Regions from separate parts of the Homo sapiens genome. Here region 2 is linked to region 1. Evidence: fine-mapped QTL for protein levels in blood plasma. Region 1 holds a variant in brackets. A gene starts in the other region. All regions are shown on their forward strands. Region 1 overlaps ARFGAP3 (ARF GTPase activating protein 3). Region 2 holds the start of FRMD7 (FERM domain containing 7).

Evidence for each region. PIP is the posterior inclusion probability: the model's chance that the variant is causal. The UK Biobank Pharma Proteomics Project read protein levels with antibody pairs (Olink). The fine-mapping took linkage between variants from a reference panel, not from the people measured, so its PIPs are less certain.
Region 2: FRMD7 starts here. The variant in region 1 is fine-mapped to the plasma level of the FRMD7 protein (UK Biobank, PIP 0.98).

Annotation. Positions count from the first base shown.
Region 1 is chr22:42,832,100-42,840,958 of GRCh38, forward strand. ARFGAP3 (ARF GTPase activating protein 3) reads right to left here. Exons shown (of 16, transcript NM_014570.5): 3 at 8,845-8,859; 4 at 3,263-3,394; 5 at 2,143-2,226. Among named protein-coding and RNA genes, the nearest start is that of ARFGAP3, 21 kb to the right of the region's middle. The variant T/C (reference allele first, on the strand shown) is at 5,077.
Region 2 is chrX:132,119,618-132,128,372 of GRCh38, forward strand. FRMD7 (FERM domain containing 7) reads right to left here and starts at 8,403. Exons shown (of 12, transcript NM_194277.3): 1 at 8,171-8,403. The coding sequence starts at 8,227. RefSeq lists an enhancer at 1-497.

The DNA.
Region 1 (8,859 bases):
ATAACCATTTTTGGTAACTATTGACTGTGACAATGCTAATAAGTATGTGCAAATTATAATAGCAAAAAAAAAAAAAAAACCCAAAAAACAAGCTTTAACAACCTGTGTACAACTTTACATAGTTTTAAATTGAAAATTAAGGAATAAGCTGGGCACAGTGGCTCACATCTGTAATCCCAGCATTTTGGGAGGCTGCGGCAGGCAGATCACCTGAGGTCAGGAGTTCGAGACCAGACTGGCCAATATGGTGAAACCCTGTCTCTACTAAAATTACAAAAAAAATTAGCCAGGCGTGGTGGTGTGGGCCTGTAATCCCAACTACTTGGGAGGCTGAGGCAGGAGAATCACCTGAACCTGGGAGGCAGAGGCTGCAGTGAGCCAAGATTGTGCCAGTGCACTCCAACGTGGGTGACAGAAGAGTAAGACTCCATCTCAAAAAAAAAAAAAACGAAAGAAAAAAAGAAAATTAAAGAATAGATTGAGCAAGAGTTCAACAAATCGTGCTCCTTACCCAGTGGGACTGGGAGGAGCTAGAGTAGCTGGCAGAACATATGATGGTCCAAGACAGAGGTAGGCACACGTTACCTTAAAGGGCTAAATAGTAGGCCCGGTGTGGTGGCTCATGCCTATAATCCCAGCACTTTAGGAGGCCGAAGCAGGTGGATCACCTGAGGTCAGGAGTTTGAGACAAGCCTGACCAACATGGCGAAACCCCGTCTCCACTAAAAATACAAAATTAGCCAGGTGTGGTGGCACATGCCTATAATCCCAGCTAGTTGGGAGGCTGAGGCAGGAGAATCGCTTGAACCCGGGAGGTGGATGTTGCAGTGAGCCGAGATCGCGCCATTGCGCTACAGCCTGGGAAACAAGAGGGAAAACTCCGTCTTTAAAAAAAAAAAAAAAGAAAGGAAGAAAGAAAAGAAAGGGCCAAATAGTAAATATTGTCGCCTTTTAGGCTTTACTTTCCCTAGATCTAAGTGATCTGAGGAGAGGCCACAGAAGTACTATGGATTGCTGTCACTGTTGCTATCAGGTCACAAAGATGAAGATAGTGATATTTAGAGCACTTACTGAAGGCTTACTTTGTGCCAGGTACTAAGTACTTTTACCTGCATTAACTCATCCAATAGCTTTGAGATAATACTACATAAACAGCAAAACTGGGGCACTGAGAATGAAACCCCTATTAAAAATGTTTTCATTTTTAGTCAGTTTCAGAGCTCTGAACTGAACTGTGGCACACTACTAGTAATAAATTCTCAGTTCTCCCTAGCAGCTAGATAAGACATGCAACTAAATTCCAGCTCATAGGACATAAGTAGAAGGGATGGGAGCTCCCTCCAGACTTTTTCTGTAAAAGAATAGGGCATCTGTGGTGGGGTATGGTGGCTCACACCTATAATCCCAGAACTTTGGGTGGCCAAGGCGGGGGTATCACCTGAGGTCAGGAGTTCGAGACCAGCCTAGCCAATATGGTGAAACCTCGTCTCTACTACAAATACAAAAATTAGCCAGGTGTGGTGGCGTGCACCTGTTGTCCCAGCTACTCGGGAGGCTGAGGCAAGAGAATCGCTTGAACCCAGGAGGCGGAGATTGCAGTGAGCCAAGATCACACCATTGCACTCCACCCTAGGTGACAAGAGCGAAACTCCATCTCAAAAAAAATATTAGCTGGGTGTGTTGGTGCGCACCTGTAGTCCCAGCTACTCGGGAGGCTGAGGCTGGAGAATCACTTGAACCCAGGGGGCAGAGGTTGTAATGAGCTGAGATCGTGCCACTGCACTCCAGCCTGGGAAACAGAGCCAGATTCAGTCCCCCCAAAAATAAATAAATAGAAGAATAGGGCATTAGCTCTCAAGGATGCTTGTCTTTTTCTCTTAATCTGGGAGAGTCTTAAACTGGAGCAGCTGCTTTAGACCCTGAGATGGAAGCCACATGTTGAGAACAGCAAAGTAAGTCCATCAGTCAATAGCAGATATCCTAACCTTGGAATTGTTGATAATGTCATTTCTCTCTTCAGTAGTTATGTTTCAGCACTTCTTGTTACAAGAGCTTAGCCTACATCCTAACATTTTAAATATGCACCTTTTGTTAACTGTCAGAGTAAGCACACTTTAAAATGATGTGAAGCATAATACATACCTCAGGAGAAACGTGAGAGGCAAAAAAATCTTCCTCCTTTGGTGGAGGGGACAAAGGTGGAACCACACAACTATCAAGCCACAGCTAGAACAAAAAAACAACACAGGGCTGAGCATTTCATCCGGCCTGTAAAGGATTTTATTTGATACCTTTCACTTCCCTTAGAGACCTGTTTCCTAAAGATTGGTGCTTTCCATTCTTATAAAATCAGTAACATCCCTACAGAGGACCTCTGCGTGCACTTTAGTAATCTATCATCCAGTAAATTTTGCTTCCAAACCTTGAGGAAGTCAAGGACCTCAAACACATAAACCATTTCTGAAAAGGAAAGATCAAAGACTTCATATCTAAATGCAGGTTCCAAATGATAATCAATCCTTGTTATTCATGGATTCCATATTTATGAATCTACCTACTTGCTAAAATTTACGTTTAACCCAAAATTAGTCCTCGTGGTGTTTTCAGTCATTTGGAGAATAGTGCAGCAAAAAATGAGTTGCCCAAGAAGCACATTCTCAGCTGAGGTAGAACAAGACACACTACTCTGCCTTCTTGTTTCAGTTCTCATAACAAATGTCCTTTCTGCAGTTTATTTTGTGCTATGTTCTTCATATTCCCATGCTTTTTATTGAGGATGTCATTTTTTAAGATGCCTCTCAAGTGCAGTACTGAAGGGCTATCTAATGTTCTGAAGCACATGAAGGCTGTGATGTGCCTCATGGAGAAAATTCAGGCATTAAATAAGCTTCATTCAGGGCTGAGTTATAGTCCTTGGCTGTGAGTTCAATATTCATGAGCCATCAATATATATTTAAAAAGGTGTCTTTAAATAGAAACACATGTTAAATAAGGTTATGTATTGATCAGTTGATGAAAATGAGACCAGAGCTTATAGGAACCTAATCCTGTATTTCTCCTAGGAGCAATGTTTTAGTATTCACTAATCCAGTACTCATGATGAATTTACAGAACATAACTACTTCAATAGTAAGAATCTACTGTACACTAATTCCTTGTAAGACAACTCAGGTAGAAAAGTTTTACTATTCAGGATAAAAATCACTTTTTCTATGAAGTGAACATGTATCTAAAGGAAACAATCCAGCCTCCAGTGACTTACATCAGTGCCATGCTTCCGTGTTGCTTGAGAGGCGAGCGATTTGATTTTCTCCCTATAGAGCTGAGCAGCACGACTGTTGTACTTGGCATTGGTGTCATTGGTGGAACACCCATGTTGATGAAAAAAGGAAGACTACAGAGAAAAGCATGCACATTAATATTTTCGTAAAACTACGTATGGCCAGGCGCAGTGGCTCATGCCTGTAATCCCAGCACTCTGGGAGGCCGAGGCAGGCAGATCACGAGGTCGGGAGATCAGTACCATCCTGGCTAACACGGTGAAACCTTGCCTTTACTAAAAATACAAAAAATTAGCCAGGCGTGGTGGCGGGCGCCTGTAATCCCAGCTACTTGGGAGGCTGAGGCAGGAGAATGGCGAACCTGGGAGGCGGAGCTTGCAGTGAGCTGAGATCGTGTCACTGCACTCCAGCCTGGGCAACAGAGCAAGACTCCATCTCAAAACAACAACAACAACAAAAACTAGCTATGAGACTTGCATTACAAAATGAAATAACTAGTCCTCATTTGTCCATTAAACCATCTCTGTCATTGTGAACTTTATTTGGGGAAAAGCTTTCTACTCAGGACTACTTTTAATTCACGAGCAATCCATTTCTTTCTTTTTTTTTTTTTTTTTTTTTTGAGAGAGTCTTGCTCTATTACCCAGGCTGCAATGCAGTGGCTCCATCTCGGTTCACTGCAAACTCCACCTCCTGGGCTCAAGTGATCCCACCACCTCAGCCTCCCAAATAGCTGGGACTACAGGTGTGTGCCACCACGCCTGGCTAATTTTTGTATTTTTTGTAGAGATGGGGTCTTGTTATGTTGCTAGTCTTGAACTCCTGAGCTCAAGGAATCCACTTGCCTTGGCCTCACAAAGTGCTGGATTACAGGCGTGAGCCACCGCTCCTGGCCCTTTTCTTTGTTTTTTGAGATGGTCTGACTCTGTCACCTAGGCTGGAGGGTAGTGTGGCATGATCATGGCTCACTGCAGCCTCCAACTCCTGGATTCAAGCAATCCTCTCACCGTGGCTTCCCAAAGTGCTGGGATTAGAAGTGTGAACCACTACACTTCGTCCACAATCAATCTCAAAATGGATTCCAGTAAATCAGAATTTTTGACAAATTAGTGAGGAGCTACATTAATGTTTACCTTGTTTAGCACTATTTTATCATTAACAGATACTACAATATAGGTAAGATGATAAAACAAGTATTTAAACAATTAAAAGAAACTGCTTTTACCCACTTCATGAGGATCCATGTATAGACATGAATTATAGAATTCATATCTTAATTAAAACAGGTCTTCTAAAAACCTATACGAGTGATCCTTTGATGAACCTAATTTAACTGATAATGATATTGGTCACCCACATGTTCCGGATCCTGTTGTGAGTGCTTCATGGGCATCATCTCATTCAACCCTCATAGCAACACTATCAGACAGTCACTACTGCTGTCTACACTTTACAGATGGGGAAAATGAAGCACAGAGAGGTTCAACAACATGCCCCAAGTCACATGGGTAGCAAGGGACAGAGTTAGGATTCAAATACAAAAAGGATGGTTCCAAGCACAGAACTCACAGCTCCACTGGCTAAACCGAATGACCACTCATCTGAGCCTTCCCTCCCCATGTCCCCCAACCCCTGATGGCTTGAGATGAGAAAGCTCCTTTCTGGAGTTTGGAGGGTGACTCTGCAACCTTGGGAAGGCTTAGAAATAAGAACAGGTAAGTCAAACCAACAGTGCTAAGTTTAGGAACAAGTTTGTGAACATCATGATAATGGGCAAAGGTTTCTAAAAAGATGC[T/C]TGAGGCTGGGCACAGTGGCTCATGCCTGTAATCCTAGCACTTTGGGAAGCCAAAGCAGGAGGATTGCTTGAGGCCAGGAATTCGAGACCAACCTGGGAACCAAAGTGAGACCACGCCTCTACAAAAAAACAGAAAATCAATAAAAAATTAATAAGAAACACTGGCTGGGCCCGGTGGCTCATGCCTGCAATCCCAGCATTTTGGGTGGCAGAGGTAGGCAGATCACTTGAGCCTAGGAGTTCGAGACCAGCCTGGCAACATGGCAAAACCCTGTCTCTACTAAAAATGTAAAAAACTTGTTGTGCGTGGTGGTACTTGCCTGTAGTCCCAGCTACTTGGGAGGCTGAGTGAGAGAATCACCTGAGCCCAGGAAGTTGAGGCTGCAGTGAGCTATGATTTTGCCACTGCACTCCAGCCTAGGCAATAGGAGTGAGACTCTATCTCAAAAAAAAAAAAAAAAAAACCAAAAAAAAGCCTTGAAACATCTAAGGCATACTTCTTTTTTTTTTTTTTTTTTTTTTGAGACGGTCTTGCTTGATTACCCAGGCTGGAGTGCAGTGGCACGGTGAACACTGCTCACTGTAGCGCCAACCCCCTGGATTCAAGTGATTCTTCTGCCTCAGACTCCCAAGTGGCTAGGACTACAGGCATGCACCACTATGCCTGGCTAATTTAAAATTTTTTTTTTGTAGACTTTGTTGTCCAGGCTGGTCTTGAACTCATGGGCTCAAGTGGTCCTCCTGCCTCGGCCTCCCAAAGTTCTGGGATTACAGGTAGGAGCAACCATGCCTGGCCAGGCATATATTTTTAATTAAGAGGGGCAAAAATTGTTTCTTGAAAAGTGAAAAAAAAATCTTAGTTATTACAATGGTTTATGGCCTTCCAAAGGTCACCTCTACCTGACAAAATTGTATTCCTTAGTATTTAATTTATCTCATTAGGGAAACATTGGATCCAATTTAAATGGAAAATTATCTAATTAATTGATTTTTATGCTTAGGGACAACGAAGAAAAAAGATTGAGAAACTAGCATTTTGGAAACTGCTATTTTAGACCTCTGACTTTAACTATTTAATTGATATATATATACACACACACATATATATATATATATTTTTTTTTTCTTTTTTTTTTTTCTGAGACAGGGTCTTGCTCTGTCACCCAGGCTGGAGTGTAATGGCATGATCACAGCTCAGTGCAGCCTTGAACTCCTGGGCTCAAGTGATCCTCCCACCTCAGCCTCCTGAGTAGCTGAGGCTATAGGCAGGTTCCACTATGCCTTGCTAATTTTTAAGTCTTTTGTACGATGAGGTCTCACTATGTTGCCCAGGCTGGTCTTACACTCCTGGACTCAAGTGATCCTCTCGCCTCAGCCTCCCGAAGTGTTGGGATTCCAGGCACGAGCCACCATGCCTGGCCATAATTTTTATTTGAAATGCATACAAATTTGATTTCTTATACTTTAGCATATAAGAAACGCCTAAAGGAATTCCATTTACTCCATCTACACCATTTTGGCCTGATAAATAGGTTACCAGTGCTGTGCAAGATTTGGCTGGCTAGATTTGTAAGGCTGCCAGTTCAGTGTTTGAGATAATCAAATATACTGAATTTGTAAATAAAGTTTAAAATGTTTGAAAATCCTTAATTAGGCCGGGCGCGGTGGCTCATGCCTGTAATCCCAGCACTCTGGGAGGCTGAGGCGGGCGGATCACAAGGTCAGGTGATCGAGACCATCCTAGCTAACATGGTGAAACCCCGTCTCTACTAAAAATACAAAAAATTAGCTGGGTGTGGTGGCGGGCGCCTGTAGTCCCAGCTACTCGGGAGGCTGAGGCAGAAGAATGGCATGAACCTGGGAGGCAGAGGTTGCAGAGAGCTGAGATTGGGCCACTGCACTCCAGCCTGGGTGACAGAGCAAGATTCCGTCTCAAAAAAAAAAAAAGAAAAAAAAAAAAAAAGAAAATCCTTACTTAGGTTTGTAAATGGGGTTAAGGAAATCAGTTCTTTAAAATTATAAATTAATTGAATATTTTAAGGTTATTTTTTCACAGAACTTAACACACAGTATTTATGTTTGTGTTTAGAAATTAACACACAATATTTGCTATATTTAAAGACATGAAGAATGGGTTTTTTGGTCGGGTGCTGTGGCTCATGCCTGTAATTCCAGCACTTTGAGAGGCCAAGGCAGGCAGATCACTTGAGGTCAGGAGTTTGAGACCAGCTCGGCCAACATGGTGAAACCTCGTCTCTACTAAAAATACCAAAAAATCCAGGCATGGTGACGTGCACCTGTAGTCCCAGCTACTCAGGAGGCTGAGGCAGGAGAATCTCTTGAACCCGGGAGGTGGAGGTTGCAGTGAGCTGAGATGGCGCCACTGCACTCCAGCCTGGGCAACAGAGCCAAACTCTGTCTCAAAAAAAAAAAAAAAAGAATGGGTTTTTTAATTTGTAGATTTAAGAAGTTAAATATTAATTTAAATACAAGCATTCCATCCTAACCACAAAAGTCACCCCAGTTATTAAAAAACTATTATCATAAAGAAGCCTCCAGTTTCTCTGTACCCTCACTTCCTGTTTTAATTTTCTTAAAGCACTTATCACTGCCTGTTATTTTCCTGTGAACATATTTCTTTGATTACTCTCTGACTGCCCCTGTCTATAAGAGGGGATCTTGATTATTTTTATTTATAATAAAATATCCCCTATAAGAGGGGATATTGGTTATTTTAATTTATTATTTTGATAATCTATCAACTCACTCTATCTATCACTGATCTCACTCTATCAACCAGGCTGGAGCACAATGGTGCGATCTCAGCTCACTGCAACCTCTACCTCCCAGGCTCAAGAGATCCTCCCACCTCAGCCTCCCGAGTAGCTGGGACTACAGGTATGCACCACCATGATTTGCTAATTTTTGCATTTTTTGCAGAAACGGAGTTTTGTCATGTTGTCCAGGTCAGTCTTACATTCATGGGCTCAAGGCGATCTGCCTGCCTCAGCCTCCCAAAGTTCTAGGATTACAAGCATGAGCCACCGTGCCCAGCTGGGGATCTTGTTTGTCTTGTCTGTCACTATATCCCCAGCAGCTAGCCAACGCTTCCTGTTTATTAGGTGTTTAACAGATTTTTGAATAAACAAGTCAACTGGGTCTGTCCAACTCCAAAACCCATCAGGCTCTCTGCTTCTTCTCATAGGGCCTCCCAAACTTTCAAGTATTGAACTCTTTTTGTTTGTTTGTTTGTTTTTTTGGGATGGAGTCTCGCTCTGTCACCCAGGCTGGAGTGCAGTGGTGTGATCTCGGCTCACTGCAACCTCTGCCTCCCAGGTTCATGCAACTCTCCCGCCTCAGCCTCCCGAGTAGCTGGGATTACAGGTGTGCACCACCATACCCAGCTAATTTTTGTTATTATTATTTTTTTTTTAGTAGAGATGGGGTTCCACCATGTTGGCCAGGCTGGTCTCGAACTCTTGACCTCAAGTGATCCGCCCGCCTCAGCCTCCCAAAGTGTTGGGATTACAGGCGTGAGACACCACACCTGACTTGTTTGTTTTTTATAAACAGAGGGTCTTGCCATGTTGCCCAGGGTGGTCTTGAACTCCTGGGCTCCAGTGATCCTCCCAAACGCCTGTAATTTCAGCCTCCCAAATGGCTGAGATTACAGGCATGAGCCACTGCACCTAGCCTGAGCTTCTTTACTATTATAGCATAACAAATATTTAAACAAGAAGGAAAATGACGAGTTTGAGATGAACTTACTGCACTAGCGTTTCC
Region 2 (8,755 bases), not on the chromosome of region 1:
GCTGAGAAGGAATACAGAAAAAGGGGCTGAAATTAGATGATGTGGGGGTAATAATTGTAGCTTTTGCACAGCAGCTGTGTTTAGAACCAGGCAAGCTATATACATCAGAGAGTTCCGCAGCCCCCAGAAAAATGTTCCTCGGAACGCCTATCACCTTTCATTCTTCCTGAGCTTTGTAGCCTTCAGCAGGTCTTCTCAGTGGTGCCTTGCCCTAGCACCTCATTGGCCAGCTCGGCACTACCTCCTGGGGTGTAAATGAACTGTTAAGGGTGGTTCTCTCAGCAGTAGAACTGGTCTCACGGAATGTTTTTCCAGTTCTGACAGTCTGGCACAAAGCTGCTAAGAGGCACCTAGTATCACAAAAGCTAGGCACTGCTCCCTGCTGCTGGGCTGGCAGTCTCCAGGCTCTTTTAGGAAATGACTGGGCCAGTCCAGCCGCCTCCCAGATGATTTTCCCCCTCAGGCCATGCCCTTTTGACCCCAAGACAATTTGGACTCAGCTCAGTCAGTTTGAAGAATTTCTCCAAGTTGCAACTGACAGCTTCATTGTCCTAAGGCACAAATTAAAGTTAAGCCTTTATTAGAGTAATACATTTGTGTTTGTGACAGGTCAAAACAATGATGCAAATGCAGGGTATTTAAAAGCGGGAGAGAGAAACTCCTATAGAATTCAGAGGAATCATCTCTGGCGAGTCTAATTCGGAGGGAAGATCTGCAGATCGTTCTGGCTGCAGGGCAGTGAACCAACTTCTGCTACTCCTCCCCAGCACCAGGCAGCAGGCAGGCCTGCCCTGCGATGAAAGGTGAAGAGGCGGCAAGGCCCCGACTAACTGAAATTTTCCACAGAGATTCCCACGAGTGCAGACTTGAACAAACAGCCAAACGCCACCCACCTATAGCTCCAAAGCCAGTTCCCCAATCTCTTCCGCCATGGCCTCAAATGTTTTTGCGTTCGGGTTCCCTCCTCCTTTCAGCTGTGGGGATGGGAAGCCAAGGGGCAGGTAGGAGTGGGAGTGGGAAGGCTGGAGGCCCTGCCTTTGCTCTGAACTGGAGCAGGAAAGCAGCCTGGAAGCCATGTGACAGCAGGAGATGTGGGGCTCCCAGAGGGTGGGGCAGGCAGCACCCAAACCATGCTTGACCCACTGCTCAGCCTGGCCTGGGGCCAGAGAAAGCACAAGCACTTTTTTTCAGTTCAATTTATTCTCCAAAGCAACAAACCTCAGGATATGAACGACAGAGGAAGTTCAGTTTAAACAAAGGCATTCACCAAGCAGTATGGGTCCCCTGCAATGACAAATGAATCCCTGGCAAAGGGACAGCCAACATTGGCTAGATTGGAACGTTATGATTCCAGGATGATCTTTCTGACCTGGGTTTAGAAGCTCCTTCACTTGGCTTTCTTTGTACAGGCACGGGGTGGTGGTGAGCTGATCTGCTCAGTCTGTTGGTCAGTCTATCAACAAACATCGATTGATCCCACCTAGCATGGGGCAGGCTGTTTAGGCAGGCTGCTTGTGATGTATCTGCTAGAGGATACATCATAAAGTTCTGGAAAACCAGGAAGTTTCACTGCATATACAGAAATCACGCTTGAGTCAGAAGCCTACCATCTAATCAATGTCCAGACAGGATTTTGAAGCCAGACAAAGTGGGGCTTGAATCCCAGCTCACCTGTTAACTTAAATAGCCATATGACTTTGGGTAAGTCAACCTCTCTGTGCCTCAGTTCACATACTCATAAAATAGAGATAAACATAATATTTTAGGCCTAGTCAGCTTGGAGTATTACTGCTTGGACATAAGAAGCAGGACATGTGTTCACCATCTAAAATTGGAGTGAATTCCATGAGGCATGAGTGTAGCAAACACTTATATAGCACTTTCTAGTACTAGTCTGAGTGTTTTACATATATTAATTCATTTAACCTTTGTTAGGACCCTATGGAGCAGGTACTAATATTATCCCCATTTTATAGATTAAAAAAAAAAACCCAAGGCACAGAGAAGTTATATAAAAACCCTAGTCAGTGACACTTATTTGATGTGCATGAGACTTATGTAAGGTAGTGCATGGGAAATACATCTAGAAAATTGTTGATAAATGCTATTTGTGATTATTATTCAGTAATATTATTGTTATTATTATTAACTGTATTACCCTAACTGTGAATAATGACCATGGAACAATTTAGAATGTAGTAAAATGCAAAGGGTTTGGCTATTTCCATCTGCTTCCTTAAAGGAAGCCCTACATTATTTTAGGTAACTCTAGGGAGTTCTTATGGACCCTTCCAGGATTAATGACTCCAAAGGGAAGAGCAAATCTCTTGGGGCTGCTGAGTAAACAGAGGCCAAAGCATGCAAAAAGGCAGGGTAAATTAACCCTACAGGAAGCGCAGAAATGGGGGAGCACAGCTCTATTACCTGGAGGTGGGTTGCAAAATCAAGCATCATCAAAAGAAAGTCCAGTTGAAAGTGAAAGACTGTTCTTTGTTGGTTTGCAAAGTACAGAAATAAGGAGGTCTGTAAGCCAGGGAGAGGGGAATTAACAAATTTGAGCACCCGCTTTGTGTCAGGAACCTTATCCCTGATATCTCATTTATCATGACAATGATCTCATGAGGTAGATGCTAGGATCATCTCCACTTTAGTGATAAGGGCACATCCTCAGAGAGCTGAAGTGACCCACCTGAAGTCTCACACCTTCAAATTGTTGGGGTTTGGTCTAGAATTCAGGTCTGCCCTACTCCAGATGTATTTTTCCTTCCATAATCCCATCTATAAATCTCAAACAAAACCAATCATTATCCCTTCTAAACTTGCTCCTTCTATTCTGTTCTCTATCTTGGTGAATGGGGCCATCATCCCACCAGCCACTTAAGCTAGAAACTTGAAGGTCATTTAGATCCTTTCTCACATATCTCCCATATCCAAAAGTGTGGCATCAAATGGTTCTAGAAATTCTACCTCATTAGCATGTCTTTTATTCATCCTTCCTGTCTGTCTTCACCATTGACGAAGTTCAGAACCCTAGTAGGCTGCAATATCGATGTTTGGGCATATGTGTTTGGATATAGTTTGACCCTCTAAAATTGGATCCACTAAACTTGATGGTAACATTCAGATTCTACCTGGCATCTCTAGCACTTAGAACATATTTTTATTAAATATAGTCTGAATGAATAAATGCATAAATTAATGCATGATGAGCAGAGGCTAATGTCCCCACTTTTAAACCCTTCAGTGGTCTCTGCCACCTTCAGGATAAAGACCACACTTCTCACACTTCTTCACATATAGAATACATTGCCTGAAAGGTCTAGCTGCCAACCTCTTCTTCAACTTTGACCTCCAGTCACTGCCATTTTCCTTTCAATACTCCATTCTTCACTTAGATTGACCCTTTTGTTCTGTGAAAGGACCATGTTCTCTTGAATATTGGCCTTCGTTCTTCCCTTTGTGTAGATCACCATACTTCCCCCACAATCTACCTCTCGATCTTCACCTTCTTAACTCCTACTCAGCAACTTAAATGGTTTGTTCTTCTGGAAGTTTTTCCTGGCACCCCAAGTCTAGGATTTACAGTTGACAGAACTAAGGCTCAAATAGCCTAAGTGACTTACCCACGGCTCCACAGCTTGTCAGTGGCAGAGTCAAATCTATCCTGGTTTATCAGACTCCAAATATACATTACCTAATTTGTATTACTCCTCGCAACAACTCAGCAAGCTAAGGGGATAAGTGATTAGTCCAAGATTACATAGCTAAAGTGGTGGGTTTTTTGGTAGTTTTTGTAGTCCCAAATCCAGGTACCTTCTATTACACCAAAGCAATTTCATATCATTGAAGTTGGAAGAACTTTGCCTTATGAAGTGACAGAATCAGTTATCTATTTCACTGTTGACTAAACTACAAAAGATCCTTCATCATCGCAAATTTAAAAACCAACCCCTGGGCAAACATCCCAAGGGTAAATTCCACCACTAATAAATTTAAAAATCACTGTGCTTTGCTTTCCTACTTAACTTGAACAGTGTTCGGTCCTGGCACTGCCTCTCTGTCTCTTTCCAAAAATGAGGCCTAGTGGCCTTTATCATGGGCTCCCAAGGGAATCAGGTGAGCTAACTTACTATATTCTGTTACTGGGTACCCACTGCATGGCCAGTACAATCACTTAGCAATCAGGTAAATGTGAAAGTAGAGATGTTTTAACATCTCGTTTTGACTTTAGTCTCCAGAAACCATCAAAGTGAAACATCATTTTGGAAATTCAGAAATAACAGCTTTTACAAAGACAGAAATGCAGCAGGCAAAAAGGGATATCAGATAGAACTGTGTCAAATACGGTGATGGGATGACCATTTTGTACAACTCTCTATGTAACCTGAGATGAGCAAACAAGAGGTTGCTCTCCAAAGGCACTCATCACTACTACTGTGTGTGAGAGTGTGTGCACACATGCATGTGCATGTGTGTATATTGAAGAGATTGATAGTCAAGCTAGAAACTTGACCCTCTATTGTTTCTAATATCTCACAAAGCTTTAACTTTGGTCTTATCTTCCTTTTTTCCTTCAAGAAAAGTTCTAGTCTCCATGTTGAAGAAGCAAAACCAAATATACAATAAAACCTGCAATTAATTTGTAAATCATGACCTTATTCAATTTTTAGTCTCACTCACCCACTCCCATCATCATTCTAGAGAGCCTTCCTTGACAGTCTAAAGATAAGCTGTCCGTTGTAAGATCAGCCCTAAGAATAATGCTAATATTTGACAATGATCAGTTTATGAAATAAATATGAGGGCTTGAAAAGTAAGATGACATTTTCACTAAATTCATTTTCTTCATTGGATTGTACTTTAGTAGGCACATTCTAGCAATTGTGAAGTCCCATAACCTATCCTGCACCCCTAAACACTATTGGAAGTTCATGAAAGAAAAGGTTGACTAATATTTTCAGAGAATTTATCTATAAAATCAACACCAAGTGACTCAGAGCACAAATATGCAAAGAAACCTCAGGAAAACAAGATGTATTTGGGAGCAGCCACTCTTTCTAATAAACTAACTGAAAGTATTAACAAGTTAAAAACAGTAGGATGATCAGAAAGCGGAGTTGTCAATCATGCAATGACAGAAAAAGGAATAACCAAGGCCAAAATTGGTAGCATCCAGGCAGTATGTCCAGGCCAGAGTGTGCTCTTGCTCACGAACTTTACCTACCAATATAGCAGAGTCTACTGTTCCCAGAACTGGGCCTGGGACATATTAGGTCCTCAATAATAATTTGTTAACTAAATGAGTTAATTAATGAATACGTGACTAAAAGGTCTCAATGCCATGGCCTCTGTGGACACAGATGCATTACCAAGCCATCGAATATTAGGATCATATATCTAATTCTTCCAGATCTGGCTCTTCTGACATCATTTGGCATATAAATGATGAGAGGACCCCAGTGTCCCCAATCCCACTGTAAATGGTGACACTAGCATTCTAATTTTAAATGTCAGTCTCTGACTCCAGTTCTTGTGGAGTAGTGACAAAACAGGCTTCTTAGTCAGGAGGCCTGAGTTAGACCTTGGACACTGGCAAATTCAGGAAGATAATAGTACTGGGGGTGGAGAAAGGGTTCTGGATGTCAATGAGCTTTCTCCAGGTGACATTATTTTATCTGATCATGTGTCCTTTTTATATTTCTACCACTGCACTTTCTATAAAATCAACACCAATACCCAAGAGTCCACTATGTTCCCTTATGCAACCAATTATTTTCTTGAATCTTATCTTGAAGGACAATTTTCCCTGGTTATGATCCATGCCTCTTGAGATTTCAGTTTAGTATCAAAAGGTCCTCCATGTGGCCTTCCTCAGCTATCAATGGGTTCTCTTCATTATGGTTCCAAGCATTTCTTCATCAAATTTGGAATGTTAGTACTAATAAAATAGAGCATTCTTTAGGTTGCTTTTTTAAGTGTTTGAATAGGTGAAAAGATTCACACCATTGTCTCCCTGACCTTGAGGGAACACTGTCCCACATAATTCTTCAACCATGATTAAGAAAAGAAGGGTCTACTAACTGGTTCACAATAGTCATCAAAAGCTCACTGTGTGCCAAGTTCTATGCCTTGTGAGGTCATCAGAAAATAAATAATGTGCATCGGCAATACTGAAGGCTACTGACAGATGAGTCTACTGTTTACAATTGTATATGAAGGAGAGGGGAGAGTTCTGGATTGGAAGTCCAGCTCTGCAATTATATGCTGTGTGATTGTGCACACGTCACTTAAGTTCCCTGAGCCTCCATCTTTTAACTTACAAAATGGGAAAAGATCTTTTCCCTACCTTCACTCACAAGGCTGAATGGAAGATCAAATGAACTAATGGATGTGAAAGTGCTTTGTAAATTTTAAAGTGCTATCCACAGATGACTCACTACTGCTATCATCATCATCACCACCATTATCATCATCATCACTATCATCATCATCATCATCATCATCAATCTATTATTGTTAAGCAGAGAAGGTACTATTGGATGATTGAATGCTAACTTAAGCTTCTAACTCCTCTGGACAAAGCCACTCACAGTACTGCAGCCAATGCTATTGCCTCTCTGGGTAACACCATGGTTGCTACTTACAAAGCATTCTTCCACAGAGCAAAAGGGATCACATGCTTTGACACCTGAATTGCTGGGTATCAAATCTCTCCCATTATCTTTCCAAGGAACACAATGTGTTGCAGCTGGAAAGAGACAGTTTGACTTGAAGCCAAATCAAGTCTTCTAGTTGCTGGAAGTGGCTCTTCCGTAGGTGAATTTTGTGAAGATATGGTACTGTGTTCCTTACCCACCCTCCACCCCATTTAAATGGATCTGAATTAGACTGCACATTCAACAAACTCTTCTGTCACTTTTTGTCAAAGATTTCTCTTTGAGTTCCTTGAAATATCTATTAAAAACTTAGCCTAAAGCAATATCTTTTGAATACCCAGCTCACTAATTCAGGTACTGCAGCACTGTGAGCATACACCACCAGTCTGCAAATGGATAAACTACTCAAAAGATATTTTCCACCCCTTAAATATAGTTCCAAGAAAGAATAGGAAATGCCTCATACCTCTAATGGAAGCTATTTGCTACAAAAACAAATCATTCAGGTCCGTGGAACTAGAAATGCCTTTTGCGCATAAAACTGAAAGGAAGAGACAGCAAAACAGCAGATGAAGACATGAAGTCATCACTCACAAAGCACATGATTCAAATAAAAATAAAATACTCATTGGAAAAATGGGCTACCCACACACACAACATCATGGCTGAGCCACAGCAGTTGTCAGTTTATGTATAAAAGAAAAAAACCAACATTTTGTATGAATTTCAGAGAAAATAAACTATTTGTCTCTTGTTAGTGGCTAATGTAAATATCAGAGCAAATAGCATTTTTGGTTCCAATAAAAATGTAGAACTTTTCAAAATGCTCATACATAAATCCTGACATCAAAATGTACATATCTTAAGATGTTGGAACATGAGCACCAAATGATGTGCTTAATACATTTGTTCTTTCTTGAAGAGATGAGGTATAATTGTATGCAATCATCTTGTAGCTAGGAATTTATTAAGAACTCTGAACTATAAGTACTAAATCAAACTAAATAGTCTCTTATCCTATTTTTCTCTCTCATACTTGTCATTCCTTCCTGAAGTTCTCATTACAACTACATAATTCTACCCCTTATAACCCATAGGTTTTCTTCAGAAAAGGAGGATAGCTTCCCCCACTCCTTTCCCTCAGAACAACAGTTTTCTCCCCACAAATGCTCATGGGGTGAGACCCACAGACATAATTTCAATGAACAACAATACCTTATTGGGTAAAAGAACTAGTTTATTGCTGCTTTACTTTTTGCAAATAGTTATCCTGTCTTTAAAATTTGCTATTGTTGTCCCTTGAGAAAAGACAACTTGTTCTAAGAGAAAGGTTAATGGAAAAATATGAACTACATTGTGATGTTAAATACAGATTATTTTTCCAAAGCTAAAAATCACAGTCCTCCTTCATTCAGTCCTAAAGAAGACATAACATTGCTCTCTAATGGGCTGTTCACAAATGACAATTATTGAATGAATAATAAAGGAATAATAGCAATGTGATTTCCACTTACATCAACCACAAAAATCTTCTGGGAATCATCCAAAAACTGCACTTTTAAATGTAGCATTCTCAGCGAGGCCGTTGGGCTGCAAGCAGGCTCAGAGTGCTGTGGGTGCTTTCTCCAGGAATTTCACTCCCAGCTGGATGTGGTGCACTCGGGCCCCCCCACCCCCAGCCAGGCATTCCCACTGTCAGCGGGGCACACTTCCGTTTGCTTGAAGTAATGCACACCCAAGGGCATTTGTGCTGCCAAGTGCAGGGGATCAATAGCATCTGGGCAGTCTCCTGTTTGGTCAATATCAAATCTAACTGGACTTCCTCTAGCCTTCTTAAACTCAGCTCCTTTCTTCAAAGAAAAATATAAAGAAAGCAAGCATTTGTGGTCCCTGGGGATTTTCTTTATTTCACAAGGGCACAATTTGAAAACCCTAGATCAAGCTTTAATAAACTGAGAATAGCCATTCTCAAAAGTAAAAAGATTCAAGTTAATCTCAAATTGTACTAGAAATTTCATGGCCAAGCTAGGAAGCATCTATCTATCTATCTATCTATCTATCTATCTATCTATCTATCTATCTATGCTTATATATATCTA